Linked DNA regions of Homo sapiens: region 1 is linked to region 2. Evidence: fine-mapped expression QTL. A gene starts in region 2. The other region holds a variant in brackets. All regions are shown on one strand. Distances are between the middles of the regions.

Region 1 (8,574 bases), 370 kb before region 2:
TCTGCTGTTTATGTAACAATAGTCCGAGGGGGAGGAGCTTGATAATTATTTACCCTATTTTATCAGTGTATCCCAGGGAGTTAATACAATCCTTTTGGGCCCAATATTTTAGATTAGTTATGTCCTTGTCCTCAATTAGCTAGATAATTGCATTCTTTTGAGGTAGCTATATTGGTCCAGGCTTAATTACATCTGTAAATGGTTTGGTAGTATTGAAATGATACAGCTCTGTTTAGCAATAGTGCAAGATTTGTGGGGGAAATAATGTAAAAATAATACAAAATTTTGTTGATATCATTTTTATCTTGCACTACTCCCCTTTCCCCACAAGTATGTACCATCCTTCTTTCTATTCTTTAAACATGCTGAACTCATTCTTGTTTTCTCTCTGTGGGAAACACTTTTTTGCTGGAGAGCTGATACTATGTTTATTTCTTGTCTCCTTTCCCCTCCCCCAAATGGAGGCCTCATGAAAGCCTATACATTTTGTTTACGGCTGTATCCTCAGCCTCTAGACTAGTTTCCACATTTTTAATGGAACTCACTCTTGTTTTCTCTCTGTGTGAAACACTTTTTTGCTGGAGAGCTGATACTATGTTTATTTCTTGTCTCCTTTCCCCTCCCACAAATGGAGGCCTCATGAAAGCCTATACATTTTGTTTACAGCCATATCCTCAGCCTCTAGACCAGTTTCCACATTTTAAATGGATTTTTTGGTTCTTGAAATATATTTGTTGAATGAATGAGTATATTTGGGAAACAAAAAAGATTCAAAATGAAGTCCTAAGTTGGTGTGGGCACACTGTACTGATGTAGCAATTGAGTGAAGAAAATAGAACCTCAGGAAGTCAGGGAAGCCTGCATGGAGGAAGTGGAACTTGATTTGGGTTTGAAGAATAGCGTGGAGGAAGTGGAACTTTATTTGGCTTTGAAGAATAGGTAAGATTTGGATAGCAGAAAATGGAAGGCAGGTCATTTTTAGTGCTGTAGGAAGTCCTAGAGACAGAAATGGGCTTGGCGCATTTCAGGTTAGTAAGAAGTCTAGCCTGATTGGATGTAGTCGTTCACATTGGTTGCAGGGTATTGGGAAGAAAGAATGGTTAGGATACGGGACGAGGAGGACAGAAAGGCACTGAGGCCACAGAGTTGAGAGTGGGCTCTGCAGCTAAAAAGGCCAAGTACAAATCCTACATTTGCCATTCATCATTTGTATGACCTTGGGCAATTTGCTGAGGCTGTCTGTTCCTTAGGTTCCTTGACCATAAAATGGGGGTGTAATAAGAGAGCCTATTGTAGATTCAGTGAGTTAATGTGTGTAAAGTGTTTAGAACAGTGACTCGTATATTGTAAGTACCCAATATACTACTTGTTATCAGTATAGGGAAAGACACAGCTGGTGTAGAAGGAAGGCGTGAGCCACTGAAGGCGTGTACGTATAGAAGTGGCATCATTCACAGCTGCTGTCTGCGCTCAGAGAAGTGCTGAGGGCCTGGATCATGGCTGTGGGCCCTGAGGGGTAGAAGCGTTGAGGTCACAGATACGTGGAAGACAGTTGAGCTAAAGAGAGGCTGCAGATGTGGGATGAAGGAAGAGGGAGAGGTAAAAATTAAACTGTTAGAGCCTGGGTAACTGGAAGGAGGTTGCTACTCACTCTAAAAGTAAGGTAGTAAGGGGCAGGTGATCAACATACTCGACTGTACCATGTTTGAAGTGATGATGAATAAAGAGAGGTGTGGAGACCCCTCTGCTCAGGTAGTAATCATTGGTGAGACAGAACCAAGAAGCTCTGTGCATCATTCGCTTGCTGTGTCTCCCCAGAATTGATGGCATCCAAAGCGAGTGATTGATTTCTGCCATTGTCACAGCCTGGTAGGTTCTTTTTGCCCACTGCCCCAAACAAAACCAGCACGGGCCGGGCACGGTGGCTCACACCTGTAATCCCAGCACTTTGGGAGGCTGAGGCAGGTGGATCACCTGACGTCAGGAGTTTGAGACCAGCCTGGCTGACATGGCGAAACCCCATCTCTACTAAAAATACAAAAATTAACCAGGCGTGGTGGCGCACACCTGTAATCCCAGCTGCTTGGGAGGCTGAAGTGGGAGAATTGCTTGAACCCAGGAGGGTTGCAAGTGAGGCTGCAGTGAGCAGCCTGGGTGACAGAGCAAGATCCTGTCTTAAAAAACAAACAAACAAACAAAAACCAATGAGAACAGCAGTTTTTGTGGCAAATAAAGAGTTTAATCATTTCAGGGCTGGCCAAGTGAGGAGAGCAGAGAGAAATTTCTCAAACCTGTCTCTCTGAGAATTCGGAGGCTAGGGTTTCTTAAGGGGACTCTGGTAGGCAGGGGGTTACTGGGGAATTGGAACAATTGATTGGCTGGGGATGAGGTCATAGGGGCATCTAAAACATCTTTGGGCAGTAAAGTCAGTTCCCAGGAAAGGGTTGGTTCTCAGAACCAGGTGGCATCTCTTGATCTACCAAAATGTGAAATCTGAAAACTATGTCAAAGGCCAGGTCTTTAGGTTTCACAATACTGATGTTATCTATAGGAGTATTTGGGGAAGTTGGAAATCTTGTAACCCCTGGTTACGTGACTCTAGTGCAGTAAGCAACTTATAGGAAAGCATGCTAAACAATAGCGGGTCATTGTTTATGCCTATTTTTTAGTAAAGTTTAAGCCCCTACCAGAATTTTAACCTTGCCATATGAATGCAGCTTTGATCTTTGAACAAGGATGGGGTATGGTGGGGGGTGGGGTCAGTTTTCCTTGCTTCAAAGTGTAACTATAAACTAAATTCCTCTCATAGTTATCTTGGCTTCCATGTTAGAGTAAGAGAAAAAAAACCTATGAAATTAAAAGCAAAGCAAAATAGAGTCAGTTATATTAAATTTCTCTCATTATTTATAATTCAGCAAAGGCAGTTTTACCATGAGCCACTTATAGCTCCATATAGACATGGCTTAAATTTTATTATATCAGCTAAATGTCAGTGCACTAACTTATGCCTGTACTTCTTATATGGCTGCATTTATCTTTCATTTATTTATTTATTTATTTTGAGATGGAGTCTTGCTCTGTCACCCAGGATGGAATGCAGTGGCATGATCTCGGCTCAGTGCAACCTCCACCTCCCAGGTTCAAGAGATTTTCCTTCCTCGGCCTCCCGAGTAGCTGGGATTACAGGCATGCACCACCGCACCCAGCTAATTTTGTATTTTTAGTGGAGATGGGGTTTCACTGTGTTGGCCAAGCTGGTCACAAATTCCAGACCTCAGGTGATCCACCCGTCTTGGCCTCCCAGAGTGCTGGGATTACAGGTGTGAGCCACTGCGCCTGGCCATTTTTTGGTTTTTACTTGCCTAAAGTATAGCTGCTTGTCTTAGTTCATTTTTGTGTTGCTATAAAGGAATACCTGAGACGGGGTAATTGATAAAGAATAGAGGTGTATTTGGCTCGTGGTTCTGCAGCCTGTACAAGAAGCATGGCACCAGCATCTGCTTCTGCTGAGGGCTTCAGGCTGCTATCATTCATGGTAGAAGGTAAAAGGGAGCCATAGTGTGCAGAGATCACATGGCAAGAGTGGAAGCAGTAGAGAGAAGGGAGGGAGGTGCCAGGCTCTTGCTAATGACCAGCCAGCTCTCATGGAAACTAATACAGTTAGAGCCCACTTGTTACCACCAGCCATTCATGAAGGATCTGCCCCTATGGCCCAAACACCTCCCATTAGACCCCACCCCCATGAGATTTGGAGGGGACAAACAAACCAAACTCTAGCACTACTCAACAAGGACGACCTATAAAAATGAGATTTTCTATAAGAGCTTCCATTTTCATTGACATAATTTTATGTCAATATATAATTTTATATTTCTAGGACACATTGACCTGAATTTTTTTCCTCCATTATTTGAAGAAATCACTTATGAATCTGTATTTTTTTATTGCACTCTGAAAAATAAGCATTGCTTTGGATGAAGTAATGAGCTGTTGTTCCATTTCTTTTGGCCAAACCAAGACTATGACATAGTTTTATAACTATTGTGGGTCAGAAGAGCATAGCAAGCTGTCAAAATTAAAGAGAATTTTATTTATTTTTCTGCAGTTATATTTATATAGTTCTCGGAGGGACTGTTTCTTTTCTAAAACAAATAAGGAGTAAGACATTCTTGCATGTTTTTATTATTTCCCATAAGAACCATAGGCATTTATGTTTCTGATAATTTATGCTGAAAGAAGAGTGCTTTTTAAATCTTCAGTATTTTTTTTTTTTTTTTACAAATTCTTCACATACATAATTTTATT[T/A]CGGGTGTGTGTGTGTGTGAATTATCACCACTTGGTTTGAAGAATGTAACTTAATATGTAACTTAGCAATTCATTTACCTGTGAATATTTCTAGTATATTTTATAAAGTCTAGAGTCTATATAGTATGGTGGTCATAAAAGGTATTAATGGACTAAAATGTATATGACCTTTTCTTTCTTTCTTTCTTTCTTTTTTTTTGAGACGGAGTCTTGCTCTGTCACTCAGGCTAGGTGCAGTGGCGTGATCTCCGCTCACTGCAAGCTCCGCCTGCCGGGTTCATGCCTTTTTCCCGCCTCAGCCTCCCGAGTAGCTGGGACTATAGGCGCCCGCCACCACGCTCAGCTAATTTTTTGTATTTTTAGTAGAGACGGGGTTTCACTGTGTTAGCTAGCTAGGATGGTCTCGATCTCCTGACCTCGTGATCCACCCACCTCAGCCTCCCAAAATGCTGGGATTACAGGCGTGAGCCACCATGCCTGGCCCTTGTTTCTTTTAAAAGATAAAAGTATGTTCTTCATAATAGACTTTGGCATTTGGGAGGAAATACTCACATCAATAAATGTTTGAATCTGTATAATACTGAAGACATGCTGGACAGTATGATTCATGGTTTTTAATGTATACGACAGGCTGATTAGCTCTCAAAGGACCATCTGTCTGTAGGAACCAAGATATTGTGTCCATCTACTTAAAATTACTCAATGCAGGTGGGGCGTGGTGGCTCACGCCTGTAATCCCAGCACTTTGGGAGGCAGAGGCGGGTGGATCACAAGGTCAGGAGATCAAGACCATCCTTGCTAACACAGTGAAACCCCATCTCTACTAAAAATACAAAAAATTAGCCGGGCGTGGTGGCATGCGCCTGTGGTCCTAGCTACTTGGGACGCTGAGGCAGGAGAATCGCTTCGACCTGGGAGGCGGAGGTTGCAGTGAGCCGAGATCGTGCCACTGCAATCCAGCCTGAGCAACAGAGTGAGACTCCGTGCCCCCGCCAAAAAAAAAAAAAAAAAAAATTTACTCAGTGCAGTATCTTGTAGCTGGCTTGTGTTATCATTCACGAGGAATAAAGTTCCGTTTGTGTCGTGCATGATACATATATTACATTTAGTTTCCCTCCAGATACTCATTTTGCTCTGTATTTTAAAAGAGAGTATTTTTTGGAGACAGGGAAGGACAAAGATAAGAAGGTCTAGTGGGTTGAATGGTAGCCCCCAAAAAGATATGTCCATGTTCTCTTTTCTGCAGTGAGTGAATGCAACCTTATTTGGATAAAGGATCTTTGCAAATGTAATAAAGTTAAGGGTTTTGAGATGCGGAGATTATACTAGATTATCTGAGTAGGCTCTAAATCCAATGAGAAGGGTGTTTATGAGAGACACAAGATGAGAAGACGGACATAGAAGGGAAGGTGATGTGAAAATGGAGGTGGAGCAGAGATGATGGGGCCACAAGCCAAGGAATGCTTGCTGCACCAGAAGCCAGGAGAGGCATGGAATGGGTGCTTCCCTAAGGCCTCTGGAAGGAGTTTGGATCTGCTGAGACCTTGATTTTGTACTTCTGGCCTCCAGATCTATGAGTGCATAGATTTCTGTTGTTTAAACCACCCAGTTTGTGGTAATTTGTTACAGCAGCCATGTGAAACGAAGACAATATTTTTCTGCAGTAGTTCAGAAATGAGACAAAATCAGAATATAAGAAAATGTATTAAACTGTATACCTGGAGTATAAATAATTCTTTGCTTAAATAAACACAGCATGATGCAATCTTGGTGTGATTCATAAAGCCCTTCAAGACTGTTCAGAACCTTAACCACTACTAGGACACATACAATTTTTGTATGAAACATAAAGAATGTCTGAGAGGTTTTTTTTTTCCCCCGTTTCCTGACACCTAATTCTTTGACACCAAGTGTCCTGCAATTCAATTCAATTCTAACACTACCTGGAGTTAGTGTCAGCCTCCACAGGTTTAGTGGGTCGGTCCCACAAGACTGCCCTCCCTTCAGACTCTAGTTGCAAATATTGCGCTTCCAGGTTGCCACACTTCTGTCAGCTATAGATTTGGGGGTCTTCACAAATCTCTTCAGGCTCAATGATTTGCTAGAATAGCTCACAGGACTCAGGAGGACACTTTCCTCATGTTTACTGTTTGATCATAAAGGGTCTGAATGAACAGCCAGTGGAAGAGGTACTTGGGGAAGTCTGGAAGTGTCCCAAGTGCAGAAGCCTCTGGCCCCAGTGGAGTTGGGCTATACCACAGTCCTGATGGGTAGATAAGTTCACCAACCTGGAAGCTCACTGAATCCAGTAATATGGTTTGGCTGTGTCTCCACCCAAATCTCACCTTGAATTGTAGTAATCCCCACATGTCAAGGGCTGGGCCAGATGGAGGTAACTGAATCATGGGGGTGGTTCCCCCATACTGTTGTCGTGGTAGTGAATAAGTCATGAGATCTGATGGTTTTATAAATGGGAGTTCCCCTGCACAAGCTCTCTTGCCTGCTGCCATGTAAGATGTGACTTTGCTCCTCCTTTGTGTTCCACCATGACTGTGAGGCCTCTGCAGCCATGTGGAACTGTGAGTCAATTAAGCATGTTTCCTTTATAAATTACCCAGTCTAGGGTATGTCTTTATTAGCAGCATGAGAACAGACTAATACATCCAGTTATTTTGAGGTTTTCGTAGGTGCTGTGGTTTGAGTGCGTTCCCCAACATGTGTTGGAAATTTAATACCCAATGCAGTAGTGTTGGGAGGTGGGACCTAATAAGAAGTGATTAGGGCTTGAGGGCTCTGCTCCCATGAATGGATTAATGTGTTTAATCATAAATAAACTGGGGGACGAATGGAATGGGTTGGTTATTGAGAGAGTGGGCTGGTTATTGAGAGAGTGGGTTGCTGTAAAAGCAAGTTTGGCCCCTTCTTGCGCTCTTGCTGTCTTGCCCTTCTGCCTTCCCACATGGGATGAAGGAGCATAAAGGCCCTCACCAGATGTGAGCCCCTCAATCTTGGACTTCCCAGCCTCTAGACTGTAAGAAATACATTTTATTTTCTTTATAAATTATCCAGTCTGTGGTATTCTATAACAGCAACACAAAAAGGACCAAGACACAAGCATGGCTGGTTAAATCCTTTGCCACTGGTGATTAACTCAATCTCCAGCCTCTCTCCTCTCTCTGCAGGTGGCAGGGTGGAGCTCAATGTTCCAAGCTTCTAATCAAGGCTTGGTCTTTCTAGCAAACAGCCCCCATCCTGAAGCCATATAGGGGCTTGGCCAAGAGTCATCTCATTAGAAGCCTCACAGAGAGGCTCCTGTCACTCATCACTCAGGAAATTCCAGGGGTTTTAGGAGCTCTGTGCCAGGAACCAGGGGCAAAGACCAAATATCTTATGATGAAACTGCAATATCAGATTAAGTTTTTTGAATGTTTGAATAGATGGGATTTGCTATGCATTTTTAATTAACTGAGACTTCTGTCATTGAGACTGATGAATAAAATGTTAAAATCTTCTGAAATGTGGAAAGTAAAAGCTAAACAGAGCCAAGGTGAGATGAAGTGATACTGTAAACAACCAACAGTGATGGAAATGTCCTTCTTTACATTCTATTTACAATTTTTATTACTGAAACTGCATATAATACTTTCCTGAGAACAAACCTTTCCCCTCTCCATTTTTAGGAAGATATTTAAAATTATGATTATCATTTCTACAGTTTTGGGAAATAGTCATTAAATCTTTTGACCCCCTCCCCTCCAAATTATAATAGTCTCTCTATATTTTTTGGTGTGTTTTTTTTCCCCACAAGAAACATTGTTACCTTTTTTTCATTTCTACTTCTCCTGAGGCCCTAGGCCCATTGTATTAACCCACCAAGGTTATGTTTAAACAGTAAGGAGCCAATTTGGCAGGACATGAAGTGGTATTAGGATGAATGATGTATCCTTGTGGCCTGGAAAAAAATAGATGTAACATTATACATATTTGCTTAATAAATGATAAAGCACATGAACCACAGATACAGTTTAAAGCAAATGGGATCTTGCCACTATCTAATTTTGATCAAAGCACTTTTTGCATAATTACTTAGATTAGGGATTGCCATTTGGTTAATTACAATAAATATATAAGCAAAGTGTAATTAAAAGGTTGCAGTGAGGGTAATTTTATTTCTGATCATTTTATGATTTTATACTTTTACAGGACAAATAAACTTATGCTTTGCATTTTATGTACCTAGGTACTCTGATAGTTTTGTTTAGGGTTTCC
Region 2 (8,644 bases):
ATACCCGAGGCTGGGTAGTTTATAAAGAAAAGAGGTTTATTTGGCTCACAGTTCTGCAGGCTATATAAGAAGCATGGTGCCAGCAACTGATTCTGGTGAGGGCTTCAGGAATCTTCTAGTCATGGCAGAAGGTGCAGAGGGAGCAGGCATGTCACATAACAAGAGAGGGAGCCATGTGACAAGCTCCCTCTGCACCTTCTGCCAAGATTAGAAGAGGGAAGAGGTGACAGACTCTTTTTAACAATCAGATCTCATGAGAACTAATATAGTGAGAACTCACTCATTACTGCAATGACAGCACCAAGTTATACATAAGGGATCCACCTCCATGACACAAACACCTCTTACTAGGTTCCACCTCCAGTGTTGGGGATCAAATGTTGACATGAGATTTTGAAGGGACAGATATCCAAACTATATCACAGGGTAAAGAGAAACATGTACCATGAGAAAACAGTTCAATCCAGAATATTACAAAATGGTCTGAACTCTTCCAAAAGTCACTGTCAAAAAAAAAAATGGCGGGCCAAAAAAATATAACATCAAATGCAATGCATGAACCAAGACTGAATCTTGATTGAGAAAAAAATCACCTCTAAAAGACAGTCTTGTGACGGTTGGGGAAATTTGAATGCTCAATATCAGATGTTATTTTAAAGTTACCATTATTTTTCAGGGTGTGAAAATGATATAGAGGCGTGTTCTTATACTCAGGAGGTACCTGCTGACATATTTATGGGTGAAGTGTCATGATATCTGCAACTTATTTTCAAATATTTAGCAAAAAAACAATGTATAGATGGATGATAGATGAATGGATGTAGATGCAGCTCTAAAAATAGCATGAGAAATAAGGTAAATACGACAAAATGTTAACAGTTGTTTAATTTAGGCAGTGGGTATTTGGTGTTTATTTTGCCATTTTATCAACTTATCTGTATATTTAAAATTTTAATATATTCCTGAATTATGTATTTTAATAGGATTTTGTACTTAGCTTATTTAGAAGGTACAAATATGTTTTACTCTACTTTAAGAAAATAAACATTAGAAGTTCTAGAATATATATTATCGGTATAGGTTATGTTAGAAAGAGTACTGAAACTCCAATCAGAGAACTTAAAGTGGAAAAAAATTAAAAAACCCTTTGGCTCCACATTAGAGGTCTGGCTCATGAATATACATTTATATATTTCAGGTTAAAATAAAATACTTACTGTATACATACATCACCTTTTAATGATTCCCAGATTGAGCTACGTTTTTCCAATGAGCCAACCAGCTACTAGTGCCAGTTAACTCCAGATGAGAGGGATTCCTCTGTATACTTTGTGTATGGAAAGAATGTAGCATCCAGCTAATAACTGGTTCAGTGATTGTGATTGGAATAGCCATCTGTTAGTGTAGTTGGGTATTCCAAGAGATAACAGGATGAGTGAAGACTGTCCTGGCCTTCTAGGGAGCCTCATGCAATATGGTGGCGAGAAGCCCAGGTCTTGAAGCAGAGGGACATGTGGTTAATTCCTGGAGGTATAATCTTGGGAAAATCACTTAACCAACATGAGCCTCAGTTTTCTCATATGAAGGATGAGACCTACCTCGCAGAGTTTTGGTAGGGCTTAAATGTGACCATGACTCTATAGCAACTGTATAATGTGGGTGCACCAGCAACAATGAATTAATTGTTGGTGGTATCATGTATAGGAATGTCTAGTCAGAGGAAGAGAGTTCTAAGGCTGTAGTTGCTGCTGAAGACACATAGTAAATAGGGGTTCTGCTGTTTCAAAAAAAATTCTAAAAGGGAGAAATGGGCTAAATTTATCAAGCATGCTTAAAAACAACCTGACTCATAAATTGGCTAGACCAATTTTCTACAAAAGATTCCCAGGATCATAGGCATTGGTATCACCTGCTGCACTTTTTCAAGATGTAGACTCCTGAGCCAAGCCCTGTACCTACTGGGTCAGAAGCTCTCGACATGAGGCCTGAGAAGCTTTATTTTAACAGGTATGAAAGCCACTGAGTGTTGAGACTGTCTACCCTGTTCACTGCTGTATTCCCTGCACCTAGCAGAATGTCTGAGGAGCTCAGTAAATCCTGGGTGATTAAATGGACGAACAGATGAATCAATAACATGACTCTGACAAATAGGGCAGAGTAGGAGTTCTGATTTCTGCTCTTTCTTACATATGCCTTAGGCTGCAAGTTGCCTTCTCCTCTCTTCTTTTTCCTTTTAACGCTGTCCTTAGGGTCGTCATCACCTGATTTTACTGCAGAGACTTGGTGAGGCAGAAAAAGGTGAACCCCGGGCTTTTCCCTGCCTGAGAAGTCCCAACCTGTGAGCTAGATTTATATACAGCAGTGGATTGAGCAGTGCTTCTCAATCCTGGCTGCACTTTAGAATGACCTGAGGCTTGGCCCGCACCCTAGACAAATTAAATCAGAATAACTGGAATGGAGGTCCAGGTATTGAAATTTTTCAAAAGCTCCCAAGTGATTCTGTTTCATAGTGAAGTTGAGAACCACTGGCAAACCATAATATGGATACCTCTAAAAATCTTAGTGTTGAGTGCAAAAGGTGGTAAACGATTTATAGCACGTTACTACTTAAGGATATTAAACTTTAATATACACACAAAACCAAGTTCTGTGTTTTTTGGAGATAATCTAAGGACATATAAGAAATCCCAGGAAGGAAGACAGGAGAGGGAAATGGGAGGAAACAGGAGCGAGAATAGAGAATAAATGGGGAAATATAAAATAAAACAAGACAGCGAGATTACACAGACCTTAAAGACTAAAAAGCGTGGCTCCCAAACATCAAATCACCATAGTTAGTATGAACAGGGCAGTCATGTGTACTAGACACAGTGTAATTGGTTTACACACCTTATGTCTGTTAATCTTCATAACAACTCTGAGGTAGGTGTTACTATTTAGAGTCATTTTATAGAGGAGGAAACTAAGGCTTAACCAAGATCATACAACTAGTAAGTGACAGATTTGGGTATAAGCCCTGTCTACCTGGATGGAGTCCAGGCTCTGTTTGCTCCATTCATCACCTCTTTGAGTCCTCTCGAGCACCTGCTGGAAAGAAAATGTCCTCCTCCCCAAGCCCACGTCTCTGCTAGGCAGCTCAGGAACCACCAGCACATACTTCATCCCAGCCCTTGCCAAAGATGGGAATGAGAATGACCATCCAATGTTCTGTGCCCAATGCAGAAGAAAACCTACACATACAACCTTCCTGACCTGGAAACATCCAAAATCAGCCTCAGTTTCCTAATGAGCCTTTCCCTGCCTGAAAAGTCCCAACCCGTGAGCTAGATTTATATACAGCAGTGGATTGAGCAGTGCTTCCCAATCCTGGCTGAAGACGAGCAATGTTTGTTGGGTTCAAGGAATAGAAAAAAGCCTCGCATGGCTGGAATAGAAGAGGAAGATGGTGGGTGCTGCAGCAGAGAAGGCAGGGGCTCAGAGCTCTTCACTTCCCACCAGACATTCCTTTTCCCTTGGGGATGGACTGAGCATGTGGAAGATTTTCCATGCAACTTCATATCCACTGTTCACAACACCTGCCTCTGAGGACGTGATCTTCCTACCAATCTCAGGACCTTTCAAAATTAATTATAATAAAAATGTATTTATTGAGGCAGGCATAAATATTAGTCTCCATTTTCTTCAGAGAAAACAGAAGCATACAGCGGTAGCTTGAACAAAATTTCCCAACCAGAAAGGGATGAGGGAGGAGAGACCGGAAGTACAAGCTCCTCTTATCTGAGTTGCCGCCGTCTAGAGGTGAGCTGATTTTCTGACAGCCCCTTCTCCTCTCCTCACTGGATATCCAGTTTCCAGGTAGGTCCTTCCAGGTAGGCGCCCCCCTGACCTCAATGCGTGCTCCAGCTCTGGGGTGCATTCACAGGGGTAGGACATAGAAGGTAAACTCTGACCAGCTGCATGTGCAGCTACCTCTGCAGAAAAAATCAAGAGGCGCTGGAAGCCCTTCTCCCTTTGCTTAACAACATCTCCCCTGCTGCCCCACAGCAGTATCTGAAGTTCCCCTGTTGGCTTATGGAAATAAAGGCTTTTGTTAAAATATAAATCTGTAATCTGACGGGATGTGAAAAGATTAAGGGACGGGCTGCCCAAACTTTACTGTGCTTGACACTCAACTTATAAGTGTATTGGAAATGCAGATCTTAGGTTCTTATACCACAGATTCTGATTCAACAGGCACCAAATGGGGCCCAGGTAGCTGCAATTCCAACAAACACTTCAGGTGTTTCTGATGCTCGTGTTCTCTGAATCTCGTTTTGAGAAACACTGTGTGACTATGAACTCTTCAATTAGTTAATGAGACTTGGCCCAGAGGTCAATTTTGTCTATAATGAAGCAGAGAGGAGAAAGACACAGCTGCTCCCCCTCTGACTTGGTCTTTCTCTGTCCCGTTCAAAGCTGTGTTCATAGCTCAGGGCTTTAAGAGAGAGTGTTCAGAGCCCTAACTCAGAAGGACCGCCTGGAGACCTGCCAGGGTTTTGCCTAGACACACGTCACACCTTTACAGGGGTGGCGAAGGCTTGTGCTATCTCAAGACCTCACGCAGTACTTCTCAGTTTAATGGGCCCACTCAAGAGGTAAACGTGGAAAAAGAAAAGTTATATGCACACACACCCACACCCACACCCACACCCACACACACACACACACAGAGCAATAAAACAGGAGCAATTTATTCATAAGATTCTAAGTCATGAATTGTCTCTACTTACAAAATATTAGCCTATAAATTATGATTCTGCCAAGCTTCATTTTGAACAAACCCACAATCTCAGAAACATCAGCAGTTCAACTGCAGAGAGAGATGATGAGGTGGCTTGAGAAGAGTGACAGAAATGTCTCTGGATGGGATTCTGGACCTTCTGGGAGGAGGCTTCTTTGAAGGCCACCTGGCGATCGCGTGGTTTCTGATTCTCCCCGTAGTGATCGTGCCTTCCCAGGTACTGAATGGATCTCTTTGAGCTCTTTGCGTGGCCGATGTGTGAACTTTTGGCATGGCCAGTGTGTTCAGTGGGAGTGCTGGGGTTTACAATTGGAGGAAGGATACCGACTCCCTTTATGGCTGGAGCTTCTTGGGATTCCTAAGTGTCACCTTGGTCCACAAGTAGCTGTTAAAAATTAGAAAAAAGTCAGCTGTTTGTCTTCTCATTCTTCTACAGGGCTCCCAGAGATTAAGACAGCCGAGCCTTCCTCTCCCTGAAGGGCCCATCTCTTTCTGAAATTTAAATAATTTGGGCATTTAAAAAAATGTACAATTAAATTATTATTGACTACAGTCCTCGTTTTGTGCTATCAAATACTAGGCGTTATTCATCCGGAAAAGTGATACTTTGAATTGTGGTGATACAGTGTTTCAACAGATCCTTATATCCTTCCAAAGTCTTGAATGCTATTACAACAGGGCGTCACATGAGGGCGCTCTAGAGAATCCGCAAGAGCAAATTCCGTAGTAAATGGGGAGGAGGGAGTTGTTATTAATAGATTTTACTTTTTAGTTTGAGTTTCCTTAGTCTAGAAGGACTCACAGAATTCCCAACTGTGCTTGCATGCCTGCTGTGCCCAGCGTGTGAGTGTGAGTGTATGTGTGTGTGTATGTGTGTGTGTGATGCACGCATGGAGGGGTTAGGGAGGATGCAGGAATAGAAGTTGATGAGGGACAAAGGGGAGGGAAAATTAAAATGATGAGCTTCAGAAGTCACCTTCTTTACAATTTGAGAGGCAATGTTCTGCTCCTATCTCTTGAAATGTCCTCTATCTCTTCCTTTCAAGGGAAAAAACACCAGTTCCCACCCAAGAGTTCTCCAGGACAAGGGAGGCCCTGGAGAAATGCAGTCAGAGGCAAATGGGAACAGATAGCTGCTTGTCAGCGCAGGTGCATCTCTTCCAGTCCACTTTGGCTGAGACTAACCTGACCTTGCTGAGCCCTGGCCTTGCCGTCAGCTTGCGCTGACAACAGGAGACCAGGCCACACTCTCCTAGCAGCTGCCCAGGCGAGGCTCATGCCCCAGAAAAAGCAGCTCCAGTTACACATTAGTCACAGAAATAACAATGATCAAAGGGAGCCAAAGGCATGAAATGGCTTCATTTTCCCAATTTAATTATGGGACTGGAGGATCCATTTCAATCTGGAAGGAGCCTGATTTCAACTTGTTATAAAATGGTTGGATAAAGTGCTGTATATTATTTTTTGTTTCTACCCTCATCCCTCCTCCCCATCTGCAATACAAGTTTTCATAGGCTTTTGAGTCCTTTTCAGCCCCTCCCTGTAGACGCACGATAAGAAACATAAATATGCCCCTTTCTTACTTGAGTCCTACTCGTGATGCTGATGCGCCCAATTAGAGTCTGTAGTTAAGGCCCCTGGGATTGTTCTGGGCCCTGGAAAAGAATGGCAGCAGGTGAGTGATGAGAGGTCCTCCCCCTCAGGGCAAGTGCAATGGCCTCATTGAGAAAGTATTCAGCCATCTGTAAAAAGGGGCCTATGGCAGTGGGGTCAGATGACAATGCCCCACATGCTTTAGTGGTTAAGATGCTTCAGTGCTCAGATGCTTTAGTGGCTACAAGTTTTTTACTGGGCTGAGAAAGATGTGGATCAAAGCTGTGTTCCAGGTACATGTGATGGGCTTTCTATCCCCTGCCACACACACCCACACACATGCACACACGTGCACACACACATATACACGTGGACCCTCTTGCCCCAAAGCCAGGCCTTGAGCTTTGAAAGGCTAGAGGCAAGAATTAGACCGGGGATGTGTATTTCTGTCCTTAGAAGTTGGCTGGCTGTTTTATACTTACTAAATGACAAAGTGTGATGAAATTGTTGCCTAGTAAGGACAAAGCCACAAGGTTTTTTTTTGTTTTGTTTTGTTTTGCAGAGGGGAGGGGAAGGGCAATGATGAGACAATTCTTTTTGGGTCAACCATCGTACATAGCACATAGAAGATTTGACTGGGACCACATAGTGAATGGCGTCCTTTAGAGCTTACATGGGCGCACAGAATCAGGCAGGGGCTAGAAGTCAGGGGTGCAGTTTCTAGACCAGCTCTGCCGCTGACTTGCCCTGTAAATTTGGGAGGGACTCCTCTCCACTCCGGGGTTCATGTTCTTCCTCTGGACTGGGCGATTTCTCTCTCTGCACCTTTTCGCTCCAAGGATCTACTAGTCCATGTCTCTCTGATGCTTAAACATCTGTGTGCAGCATTTTTAGGAGGCCTCTTTCCTCTGCAAAATAAGAGGCCTCTGCTCTTACATTACTTTGGGATATGTTTGGAATTTTACTTATTCTCCACAAGATTTAACTGTAGTACAAGGTGAGTCTTTTTCCTACTTCCCGGGAATTAACCTATGGCATAAATTACAGGCAGGAAATAGATGGAGCAGATAAACATGGAAGGCTTGCTTTCTTTTCCTCTTCGTCTTTCCTTGAACTTTTTTGCACATCCATATTAAAACCCGTTTCTGGCTTTCTCCCTTCACACTCCTACTTACGGGGTTTACAGAACGAGGATCTCTCGGCAAGATCAAACTTGGTCTCCCCTCATATAAAATTTGACTGAGCTCCTCCTCGTGAAATGGATTCACCTTTTGTACTGGGAAAAAAAAAAGGTTTTTAAAGTAGTTAAAGTAAAAAAAAAAAATAAGGACGGAATCTGCACGAGGCAAAATTACATTGATATCTTCTCTTAAACAAAGAGGATAGATTTCTTTACAAATTCTGTATGTCCAGATACCATTTAGAAGCAAACTCTGATTTCACATTGAGGCTGAAAATGTGTATACTCAAAGCTGATAAGAAGCCACACATAGAGTAATTTATGTCTTATATTTTATGTGATATACTTGACAACATAAATAATCACATAGGAAGGCCTCTGTTTAGCATTGGCAAATAAGAACACAGACTATTTATGTATGGGTGAAAGAGAGTGGAAAGAATTTTAACCTTGAAACTCCTTGTCTATTGACTATTTAGGATCCTAGTCTTTTTTTTTTTTTTTTTTGGAGATGGAATCTCACTCTGTTGCCCAGGTAGGAGTGCAGTGACGTGATCTTGGCTCACTGCAACCTCCACCACCTAGGTTCGAGTGATTCTCCTACCTCAGCCTCCCAATTCGCTGGGACTACAGGCATGCACCACCATGCTGGCTAATTTTTGTATTTTTAGCAGAGAGGGGGTTTCACCGTATTGGCCCGGCTGGTCTCAAACTCCTGACCTCAGGTGATCTGCCCGCCTCGGCCTCCCAAAATGCTGGGATTACAGGTGCCAGCCACCACATTCAGCCTGGATCCTAATCTTGAAGCTGGATATACAAGGAATTTTGTCCTCGTCACATTTAATATTTATTAATTTTTTAAAAAAGGGCAGCAGAATAGAAAATGGGGTTTTAATTTTGTAATATCTAGATTCACTTCTGGTTTAATAGGGTGGCACTTTTAGTGGGCATTAGAATCTCTGGGGGAACTTGTTTAAAATGTTGATTGTCAGGCCTCATCTCTCAGAGTGTTGATTCTGTAAGCTATATTGGGTGCAAAAATCTGTATTTTAACAGGCATTTCATGATGAATGATGTGCCTCTAGTCCGGG

Evidence for each region.
Region 1: its variant is fine-mapped to the expression of CASC18 in tibial artery (GTEx, PIP above 0.99).

What each region holds. Positions count from the first base shown.
Region 1 is chr12:105,335,132-105,343,705 of GRCh38, forward strand. All of the region lies in intron 1 of C12orf75 (chromosome 12 open reading frame 75), which reads left to right. Among named protein-coding and RNA genes, the nearest start is that of C12orf75, 8.7 kb to the left of the region's middle. The variant T/A (reference allele first, on the strand shown) is at 4,306.
Region 2 is chr12:105,700,402-105,709,045 of GRCh38, forward strand. It overlaps CASC18 (cancer susceptibility 18), which reads left to right and starts at 3,802. Exons shown (of 5, transcript NR_110109.1): 1 at 3,802-3,855. LOC105369959 (a long non-coding RNA gene) reads right to left here and starts at 7,626. Exons shown (of 3, transcript XR_945309.3): 1 at 7,549-7,626; 2 at 6,364-6,435; 3 at 4,715-5,165.